Linked DNA regions of Homo sapiens: region 2 is linked to region 1. Evidence: fine-mapped expression QTL. A gene starts in region 1. The other region holds a variant in brackets. All regions are shown on one strand. Distances are from middle to middle. Region 1 holds the start of PDHB (pyruvate dehydrogenase E1 subunit beta). Region 2 overlaps PXK (PX domain containing serine/threonine kinase like).

Evidence for each region.
Region 2: its variant is fine-mapped to the expression of PDHB in spinal cord (GTEx, PIP above 0.99). The same link has a PIP of 0.9 or more in cerebellum, pituitary, substantia nigra and tibial artery.

The regions. Positions count from the first base shown.
Region 1 is chr3:58,431,584-58,436,964 of GRCh38, reverse strand. It overlaps PDHB (pyruvate dehydrogenase E1 subunit beta), which reads left to right and starts at 3,133. Exons shown (of 10, transcript NM_000925.4): 1 at 3,133-3,197; 2 at 3,281-3,334; 3 at 4,981-5,088; 4 at 5,172-5,234; 5 at 5,337-5,372. The coding sequence starts at 3,156. LOC107986092 (a long non-coding RNA gene) reads right to left here and starts at 3,370. Exons shown (of 4, transcript XR_007095933.1): 1 at 2,723-3,370. RefSeq lists enhancers at 1,506-2,115, 3,158-3,377 and a silencer at 2,858-3,097.
Region 2 is chr3:58,391,708-58,397,088 of GRCh38, reverse strand. It overlaps PXK (PX domain containing serine/threonine kinase like), which reads right to left. Exons shown (of 18, transcript NM_017771.5): 7 at 5,242-5,316; 8 at 1,987-2,091; 9 at 1,330-1,431; 10 at 1-50. Among named protein-coding and RNA genes, the nearest start is that of PDHB, 39 kb to the left of the region's middle. The variant T/A (reference allele first, on the strand shown) is at 2,351.

The DNA of each region.
Region 1 (5,381 bases):
ATCTTCCAGATATCACCTTTTGTCAGAACTTGGAGTTATGAATGGCCCTCACTATACTGATGTTTTCTGAGCTCCTCTCTACTCTGAACATAAGGGACCCTAATAGTTAAGCAGGAATATCATCACCCCTATTCAGCCTGAAGAAGTTACAGAAGATGCATCTTCATCCCTCCGAAACTTTTAGGATTAAAGTTTCTCTCATAATAGGGAGGAGGCAAATGTCAGAGGAATGTGAACCAGAGCAACTCCATCTTGAATAGGAGCTGGGTAAAATGAGGCAGAGACCTACAGGGCTGCATTCCCAGACAGTTAGGCATTCTCAGTCACAGGATGAGATAGGAGGTCAGCACAAGATACAGGTCATAAAGACCTTGCTGATAAAACAGGTTGCAGGAAAGAAGCTGGCCAAAACCCACCAAAACCAAGACGGCGATGAGCATGACCTCTGGTCATCCTCACTGCTACACTCCCACCAGCGCCATGACAGTTTATAAATGCCACGGCAATGTCAAGAAGTTACCCTATATGGTCTAAAAAGGGGAGGCATGAATAATCCACCCCTTGTTTAGTATAAAATCAAGAAATAATCATAAAAATGGGCAATCAGCAGCCCTCAGGGCTGCTCTGTCTATAGAGTAGCCATTCTTTTATTGCTTTACTTTCTTAATAAACTTGCTTTTGCTTTGCACTGTGGACTTGCCCTGAATTCTTTCTTGTGTGAGATCCAAGAACTCTCTCTTGGGATCTCGATCGGGACTGCTTTCCTGTAACATCTCCTTTTGCTTGGCAAATCTGATCCTGAAATCTTTTGGTGCTAGGTTGTGGGAAAGGTGGGAAGGACTGATTCACTTTTTCATTCTGAGCACCACCCACAAACTTTTGGGGGCTGAAATCTCAAGTTCAGGAGTTTCTCAGGGATGCTGTGGCAGTCTAGGAAGTGCTGGCCATTCCTGAGGCCCTGGCAGGGACAGTTGGGACTAGACGATGGTGGCAGGTGAGGGAGACTCAGAAGGTGTTGATTCCATATCTTGAAGATCTTCTATCCATTTTACAGATGAAACAGTCCCAGAGAGTAAATGTCATCTCTATGCAGCTGTCCCCAAATTTCTACCTTTAGCCCTGACTAGGCCCTAGGCTCCAGGCAACCTGGGTATGTCCCAGTCATCTAAAGAATAAAGGCTGGCTGCAGTGGCTCATGCCTGTAATCCCAGCACTTTGGGAGGCTGAGGCGGGTGGATCACTTGAGGTCAAGAGTTCAACATCAGCCTGGTCAACATAGTGAAAACTCATCTCTACTAAAAATAAAAAAAATTAGCCGGGCATGGTGGCAGGTGCCTGTAATCCCAGCTACTCGGGAGGCTGAAGCAGGGGAATAGCTTGAACCTGGGAGGCAGAGGTTGCAGTGAGGCCCACTGCACTTCAGCCTGGGTGACAGAGTGAAACTCCATCTCAAAAAATAAACAAAAATACACTCTTACTTCCCCAGCTCCTGGCACTTACACTGCCCCAGGCTCCTCCCTTACCCCATCTATCCATCCAGCAATGACAAAAATCCAAAATTTTCCTCTGCTCTTCCCTAGCACTTACAGCATTCCTATTGATTCTAGCCCAAATAGATCTCAAAACTGTCCCCCTCCTCTCCATCTGGAAGTTGCCTCCTAGTCTGCCTCTGTTGCTGCCACAGACTTCCCAGCATCCGCCTGTTCTGCCTTTGCCTCCACCCCCTCCCATTCCCAGTCAGCAACCTACTGGAAGTTGCAAATTCCTAATTTGGCAGCCTGCAGCTGTGATCCATAGAAGGGAATGTTTGGAATGTCTTGGGGATGGGTGGAGACTGGGTGCTCAATTGTCCCATCTGACCCCCAAGGGCCAAATTAAGACTAATGAGCTTCCAGAGGTTGTCCCTATGGCCAAGTGTTTGGCACCTCCCCATAAGGGAGGAGACCACCCCTCATATTGTCTTATGCCCAATTTCTGCCTCCAAAGAAAGAAAAAGTAAAAACTAAAAGGCAGAAATGAAATCCACAAACAGACAGCCTGGTGCCACACCCTGGGCCTGGTAAAGATCGACCCCGACCTAATCGGTTATGTTAACTATAGATTACAGACATTGTATAGAAAAGCACTGTGAAAATCCCTATCCTGTTCCAGTCTAATTACCGGTGCTTGCAGCCCCTAGTCACATACCCCCTGCTTGCTCAATCAATCATGACCCTCTCACGCACACCTCCTTAGAGCTGTGAGCCCTTAAAAGGGACAGGAATTGCCCATTCAGGGAGCTCGGCTCTTGAGACAAGAGTCTTGCCCATGCCCCTGGCCGAATAAACCCCTTCCTTCTTTAACTCGGTGTCTGAGGAGTTTCGTCTGCGGCTTGTCCTGCTACATCCATAGGGCCGCCCTTCTCTAAAGTTGTTGTAACCTTCCCCCAAGCAGGAATCCACTTCTGCTTTAGGAAGCAGTGGGAAAAAGACCATGCTTTAGAGTCAAGACAGTCCTAAATTAAAATATCGGCTCATTTAATCAATTTCTGCTTCAGTTTAACCGTCTTCAAAATGGAGATAATAATAACACTAATTACCCAAGTGGGGTACTGTGAGAATGAGCTATACAGCACATATCTCAATGCTTGGCTCACAGTAGGTGCTTAATGCAATCAATGAAAGCTATGATGTGCATTATAAGGAATCAACAGACAGCACTGTCCAGGGAAGACTAGACTCACTCATGAAGTGTTAAGTTCCCCATCAGTAGAGCGTGTGCAAGCACTTCTTGGTGCCCAAAGGATTCCAGCACCCACAACAGGTTGGCCTAACTCTTAAGGTCTCTCCAGCTTCCAGAGATCATGCTCCTCAGGGTCTGACTTCTAGTCCCCACGCTTCAAGTAACACCGACCAGGCACGTGTGCCCAGCGTGCACCCCGCCTGTCGGTCACCGCCTACTGTCAATAAAGTTGATTTGAGGCGGCTCCAGGCAGAGGGGCACGGCCACCCACACGCCACCTCAGCCCGGCCCCGCGGCCCCTCACCCGGTGGGCGGGTGGGCGGGTCACGCAGCCGGCGCGCCTTGCCATTGGCCCGCGCCGGTGGAGGCGGGGCCTGCTCACGTCTGCCGGCCCCTCTGTTGTCGTTTGGCAGCGGATAGAGGACACGACCAAGATGGCGGCGGTGTCTGGCTTGGTGCGGAGACCCCTTCGGGAGGTAGGCAGCAGCGCGCGGCCTGTATTCCCACGCGACCCCTGCCCACCCTGCGTCCCGCCGTCATCTTCCTCTCTCCCTGCCAGGTCTCCGGGCTGCTGAAGAGGCGCTTTCACTGGACCGCGCCGGCTGCGCTGCAGGTAACAGGCGCGGGTGCTCGTCGGACGAGGGCGGGGAGGGTCCCCCCTTCTCTCGGGAAGGAGGCCGGAGTCGCGCCTGCGCTGTGGCCTTCCGGCGCCGTGGGCCTTGGGTTTGCGGAGCCAGCATCCTCCGTGGAGCTCCTGCTGCCTCTGTCGCCGCCTGGCAATTAGCACACCGGCGAGTCACCACCTCACAGCTGGCTGGGCAATGGGGGAAAACTAAGACTAGGCGTTTCCTCCCTCACTCCATGTTTTTTTCTTTAAATTGCAGCAAAATAGACCTAACTTAAAATGTACTTTTTAGAAGTGTATAATTCAGTGGCATTAAGTACATTCACCATGTTGTACAACCATTAACCACCATCCATTTCCAGAACTTTTTAATCATCCCAAGCAGAAACTGTCCATTACTCGGTAACTCCTCATTTCCCTTCCCCAAACCCCTGGTAACCCCTGTTGTACTTTTCTGTCTTTATGAGGTTGCCTATTCTAGAACTTCTTATAAGTGGCATCATTTGTCCTTTTGTGTCTGGCTTATCTCAGCGTAATGTCCTCAAGGTTCATCCATGTTGTAGCATGCGTCAGAGTTTGATTCTTTCCTAAGGCTGAATAATATATATATGTATATTTTTTTGAGATAGTCTCCCTCTGTCACCCAGGTTGGAGTGCAGTGGCGCGATCTCAGCTCACTGCAACCTCCACCTCCTGGGCTCAAGGGATTCTCGCGCCTCACACTCCTGAGTAGCTGTGATTAGATGCCGGTGCCACCACACCGGGCTAATTTTTGTATTTTTAGTACAGACAGGGTCTCACCATATTGCCCAGGCTGGTCTTGAACTCCTGGCCTCAAGTGATCTGCCTGCCTTGGCCTCCCAAAGTGCTAGGATTACAGGCATGAGCCACCTCGCTCAGCCCGACATTTTCTTTTTTTTTTTTGAGACGGAGTTTTGCTCTTGCTGCCCAGGCTAGAGTGCAGTGGCACTATCTCAGCTCACTGCAATCTCTGCCTCCTGGGTTCAAGCAATTCTGCCTCAGCCTCCCGAGTAGCTGGGATTACAGGCACCCGCCACCACACCCGGCCAATTTTTGTATTTTTAGTAGAGAATGGGTTTCACCATGTTGGCCAGGGTGGTCTCGAACTCCTGACCTCAAGTGATCCACCTGCCTTGGCCTCCCAGAGTGCTGGAATTACAGGTGTGAGCCACCGTGCCTGGCCTTGTTTTGTCTATTGTGAGTAATGCTGCTGTGAACATTGATGTGCAAGTATATGCTTGAATCCCTGCTTTCAATTATTTGGGGCATATACATAGAAGTGGAATTGATGGATTGTATGTTAATTCTCCTCTCCTTCCTTTTTTTAACTAGATTTTACCATTCATTATATTAAAAGAGCAACTCCTACATTCTGGATGCAAAGTATTTGGCAGTACTTGGCACCTAGTGAGCACTCAGTACATTAACACATGCAAAGACCAACTATGTGTAATAGAAATGTTACTTTTAGAATTCTTTGAGTTTTTAGAGAGAAGCTTGTTCTAGTGTTTTTATATTGTATGCTGTGGGCAGCCTAGGTAAATATAAAGGAAGAAAATCTTAGTTGAATCCCAAACAATTCTGTATTGACTGTTTTTGCATACCTGTGACAGGTGACAGTTCGTGATGCTATAAATCAGGGTATGGATGAGGAGCTGGAAAGAGATGAGAAGGTATTTCTGCTTGGAGAAGAAGTTGCCCAGTATGATGGGGCATACAAGGTAACTAAAATATATGAAAGTTATACAAAATTGAGGTCACTGTTACCCCCAGATACACTTAAGGGATCAACTCTTAATTGTAGGTTAGTCGAGGGCTGTGGAAGAAATATGGAGACAAGAGGATTATTGACACTCCCATATCAGAGGTAAGCCTTCCAGTGGGAAGCAGACCCTGGAGGGCATGTCTGTTAGTGTCCATTATCCTCATTTTTATGGATTTTCACTTATGTTTATATTTTACTTTATAGATGGGCTTTGCTGGAATTGCTGTAGGTGCAGCTATGGTATGTAAT
Region 2 (5,381 bases), 40 kb after region 1:
GCGTGAAGATGCCCATAAGGGAATCCCTTGTCATGAAGAAACTTCAGTACCTATCAAAACATATGGGAAAGTTACATTTTCCCCAAACTCATTCAGATATAAGACAAGTTAAACTTTGTTTTTTAGTCAATATATTTTGAAACAAAACCAAACAGGTCACTGAGAAGATTCCTGAAGAAAAATGCCACCTCTACCCATTTGTTTGGAAAAGGAAGTGAAGCTGAATGCTTTCCAGTTTTGAGGCTGTGAGATGCAACATCAGTTCTTTCTTTCCTCAAAAGAATAGAGAAGCAGCCTGCATATGCTTGGAATTAATAACTCTGATGCCAAAAGGCTCTGCTTTAAGCACTTTCTGATTCCAATAGGCCAGCTCTCTTCAGGGCAAAGTCTTGATCCTCCTGCATAGATGAGTGAAGCTATCTTATCAGTGCTTCTGCCAGTAATTCAGAAAAAGGGGTTGAACTAGAAAACATCTCTAGTTCAGTCTCTCCTCCAAATATATTTAGCTGTTTATTAATAGGAACACACAACAGGATCCCAGAAAAAGCAGTAAATATTTCCGCTGCCATATAAATAATCAGTGGCTTACCCAGTAAGAGAGATGCTTAGATATAGCCCTGCAATGTCCTGGTGAACTAGAGCAGTGATAGGCAAGTGGGGTGCCCAGAGCAATTCACTAAGGACTAGAAGAAAATATTACAACTTCTCTTCATAGTTGTTGTTTTTTAAAAATGTTATTTTTTTAACTTATAATATACAAAATATATTACTAGTATGCTGTCTCCATCCAAACAAATATAATATATATACACACATACACATATATGTATGTGCATAGTACACGCATATAATTTATAGTTAAATAGACATAACATTGGGATATTAAATTGGTTATTACTGATAAGGTTGCATAATCCCAGAAGCTTGGAGAATCCTGATCTAGAGGGTGATGTCGGAAAGCCTTCTCACTGTTGGTTATACTTCTGTAAGGGAGCCATATGGCTATGCATATGACATAACAAAATCAAAAACCTTGGCATGGGGATAAAGAGCAACCAAAGATAATATAAAAGTTGGTATCCACACAGTAAAGTTCTTAAAACTCAGACACTAAATTGCAATAGCTAAAGCTTTAAGAATTTTGTAGACATAAGTGACTGTTGCCTTAGTCTCAAATATTTACTTTTTGAGGCAAAATATGACAATGCAATCAGTTTATAAGTAATCAGACAACTTAAGTAATTTTGGATATTACTTAAGAACTTTTCCAGGTGAATAATGCAATTTTGGATGAAATCTGAATGCAACTTAAACAAAAGTACCTCTTACCTCTAATATTTGCCGTCCATATGTTTTTATTTGCTGGAGTTCCAGGCCCTGAATCTTCTTAGGGTTGCAGTACTTCTTTAGAAATGGGTCTTTTGGTTTTGCCTTTGGAAAAGAACAAAGAACACGTAAGAAAGCAGCAGAGGGGCCAATATCTGCACACAGACTCCCTGACCAGGCAGGATTCTACAGAGGCTAGGGGCGCCAGAGATGGCCAGCTGCAAGATGTGAGTTTTTAAAATACGACAGTCTGCATTGTTGATAGAAAGAGGCTGACCCAGGTTCCATCCCTTCTCTAGCCCAGTGAAGATGTGCCTGGTCTTGCCCTTAGCAGACCCCAAAGTCTTGCATATTGTTCGAATTCTTCAGAACTGCTTTGTTAAGCGCAAAACACAAACTTAAAAACTGACCTAAGAGAACAGCTTGCCATGTAATGGACATAATTATTAAATGTTCAACCTTTCCTCACATGGGAAAAGGAATGCTCTTTAACCAAACTAAGTAGAGTTTTTATTGCATGAATAAAAATAAATTCCAAATAAAATCAAAACTAACATCAAATCCTCAGGGCCTAGCCTCTGGAGTCTTAGAGACTAAGTATCAATAACAGGTTCTAAAGGAACTTGAGAATTCCTTATGACCATGAACTTGCACAGGTACCTTGTAGATCAGATCCTTCAATGTTCCCTTTTCGTTAAACATCCTAATTAGCAACGCTGAGGATTCATTAGCTGTGGCAAAGGTAACCCGATAGATGTAAGGGTGCTGTCAAAACAAAAAAGAAATTCACATTGATTTGCGTCAGGATCTAGGTCCTTTTAAATACAGGATCTGGTTATGCAGAGTCAAGTAGCACTGTGGTGGTTTAATTGCATACGAATGTAGTGATATTCCCTGAACACATGGCATTTTCAAGTTATTCAGTTACCAGCTAGTTCCTCCTTCTTCAGATGGAGGAAGGGACATAAACTGTAGGAACAAAGGAAAACAGGAGACAGATAATGGATGTGGTAAACTCCACAAG[T/A]GAAGGGGTCCTCTTTGGTGTGTGCACTCTCATAGCTCAGGCAAAAGTGTGGTGGAAGAGATAAAATGTCTGAGTTTTGAGGATAATAGTGTTAATATCCTGTCTCTGTAAGTCAGTAAAGAATACAGCCAAATCTCAGAACAGCCAAATGGAGACCAGGATCAATGTGTCTTTGCTCACAGCTTTGCCTAACATTCCACACTGCTGTTTGGGTGCCAAGCCAAGAAGCATACTAGCCAGAAAACAGGCAAAAGTAGCATCTTCTGGAATCTCAGCCCTTTCCACAGTAGCTGGCATGAATCTTCCTACCCTTCTATAGAATTCTGCAACATAAAGATTCACAGTGTCCTCCTCAGATGGAGAAACTGACATTAAGCAACTGGGGTGGAGAAAAGACAAATTATTTAATGAGTGAAAGGAAAGTGCTGTTTTTCCCTGGAATTCTGGTTACGTGAAACAAACTGGGTCCAGACAGGTATTACAATGTTCACTAGCTCAAAGGAGTATCATGAAAATTTAAACCCATGGGAGCTGAGCTATGCAGGGATTTTGGAGGCTGGCATGCAGCAGGTTGGGGGGTGGAAAGGTGTACCCAGGAAAACAGAGTAATTGATCATGAAGTTCTCCTGATCATCACATCAAAATGGTTGCTGCTGACTTTTTAACAGCTTTGTTGAGATATAATTCACATGCCATTACTATTCACACATTTAAACTGTACAAGTCAATGATTTTCAGTATATTCAGTTATACAACCATCATACAATCTAATTATAGAACATTTTCATCACCCCAAAAAGAAACACAATGGGTAGAATAAAAATCCTTGAGTACATACTAATATAAATTTTTTTAAAAGGGAGAAGAGAAGCTCTTTAGAGTAGAATGCCAACTAATAAGTAAATACGGAAGGAATAATAGAGTTAGAAAATCACATTAAATGTTAAAATGCTAGTGGGCTTCATAAAGAACAGAATATGTAGTGTCACAATATCTCCTTACACATTGGTTATTAATTATAGGTATTTACCTTAAGAAATTAAGTATGGGTATAATGTTTAGCAAAAATTGTTCATTATGGCTTTTTTCTTTTTTAAAAAATAAGAGCAAAAAGCTGGAGGTGATCTAAATGTCAATAGAAGATTGAGTAAACTAAGGTATAGCCAATGATAATTCTATACAGCCCATAATAATGATGCTATATTTACTAACAACTAAAGATGCTCATGGTACACCATTAATGAAAAAAAAATCAGGTTTTAAAGCACTACATATATAATTTACTTTTTTATCATAAAAATTCTTAAAAAGTAACAACTGAATATTTTGGTTCATACTTCTGTTTGACTGGGATTACTGGTGAGTTTTCTTTTCTTTTCTTTCTTTTTTTTTGAGACGGAGTCTGCTCTGTTGCCCAGGCTGGAGTGCAGTGGCACGATCTCGGCTCACTGCAAGCTCCGCCTCCCGGGTTCACGCCATTCTCCTGCCTCAGCCTTCCTAGTAGCTGGGACCACAGGTGCCCACCACCACGTCCAGCTAATTTTTTCTATTTTTAGTAGAGACAGGGTTTCACCATGTTAGCCAGGATGGTTTCGATCTCCTGACCTTGTGATCCATCCGCCTCAGCCTCCCAAAGTGCTGGGATTACAGGCATGAGCCACCACACTCGGCTTATTTTCTTATTTTTGCTTATCTGCCTTCTGACTTTGCTACAATTAATATGCACCATTTTTATGTGCTTCTTTTTTTAAAGAAGCACTTCTATTAAAAGAAATTTAGGGCCGGGTGCGGTGGCTCACACCTGTCATCCCAGCACTTTGGGAAGTCGAGGCAGGCGGATCATGAGGTCAGGAGTTCAAGATCTGCCCGGCCAACATGGTGAAACCCCATCTCTACTAAAAATACAAAAATTAGCTGGGTGTGGTGGCATGCACCTGTAATCCCAGCTACTTGGGAGGCTGAGGCAGGAGAATCGCCTGAACCCAGGAGGTGGAGGTTGCAGTGAGCCGAGATCGCACCACTGCATTCCAGCCTGGGTGACAAAGAGAGACTCCACCTTGAAAAAAAAAAAAAAGAAATTTAGAACTAGGTCCTGACAGCCTATGTCACACAACCAATCAAGCTCTAAGACTAAAGCGTCTTTTTGGCCTCACATTGCACCTCATTAATAGCTTGGTTTGCAAGCTTGACAAGACACTATATGGCCAAAAATAAACTTGCCAAACCAAGTGCACAAGTCAGTGTAATTGTGTTCAGTTCGCTAGTGATTCATTCCAGGGAACTACATCTTCATGCAGACAAGATAAAGAATGTCAATGTTAACTCAATTTCCTGGCCAGATTAGTCTTTGCTGAAGACATTCTGCACATATTTTGAAATATATCAACGTGGTTCTTTGCACTGAAGGCCCTGGATTAGAGCTGTGTAGTCGTGTAAATAATATCATGTATTCCTAAAGGTCATCTGGTTAGCCTGTGAAGGTAGTAACTCAGACAGAAAAATGGCTATTTTGCCTTTTCTTCACCCAGCTTATCTAAATTCCTCATTAGTTCTGTTTTCTCAGGCTGGAAAGAGTATCTTTCAGTTCCACTGAGATAAATACCTTCACCAAGAACAACAGGCTGGGAGAAGTAGCTGCTTCCCTACTCTCATCTTTGTTTAAAATTCAAAGTCTGTATTTAAATTACTATGTTTCATGGGTTGTGCAGATGTCATGAATGCCATTTCAAATAGCCTATGATCTAAGAGATTAGCCCTACACAATTTCAGTCTGACCTGAAATCCACTGTATCTCCCCATTCTGTTTTCCAGCTTTTCTGTCCATGTTCACCCAGAAAAAATACTGTGACTCTATCATCAGCACTGAGAATAAAAGAAAGACGTATACTCACCAAACAAGAAGGCAGAAGTTTGATTAGACACTGAAAATCTTTATCTGACAAATACTTGTCTGGGCCAAGGTCAGCCTGAAAACATGGAAGGGAATATCAGGGTACTGTTTTGGTCACCAAAAGAAAAATTCCTTGTCTTT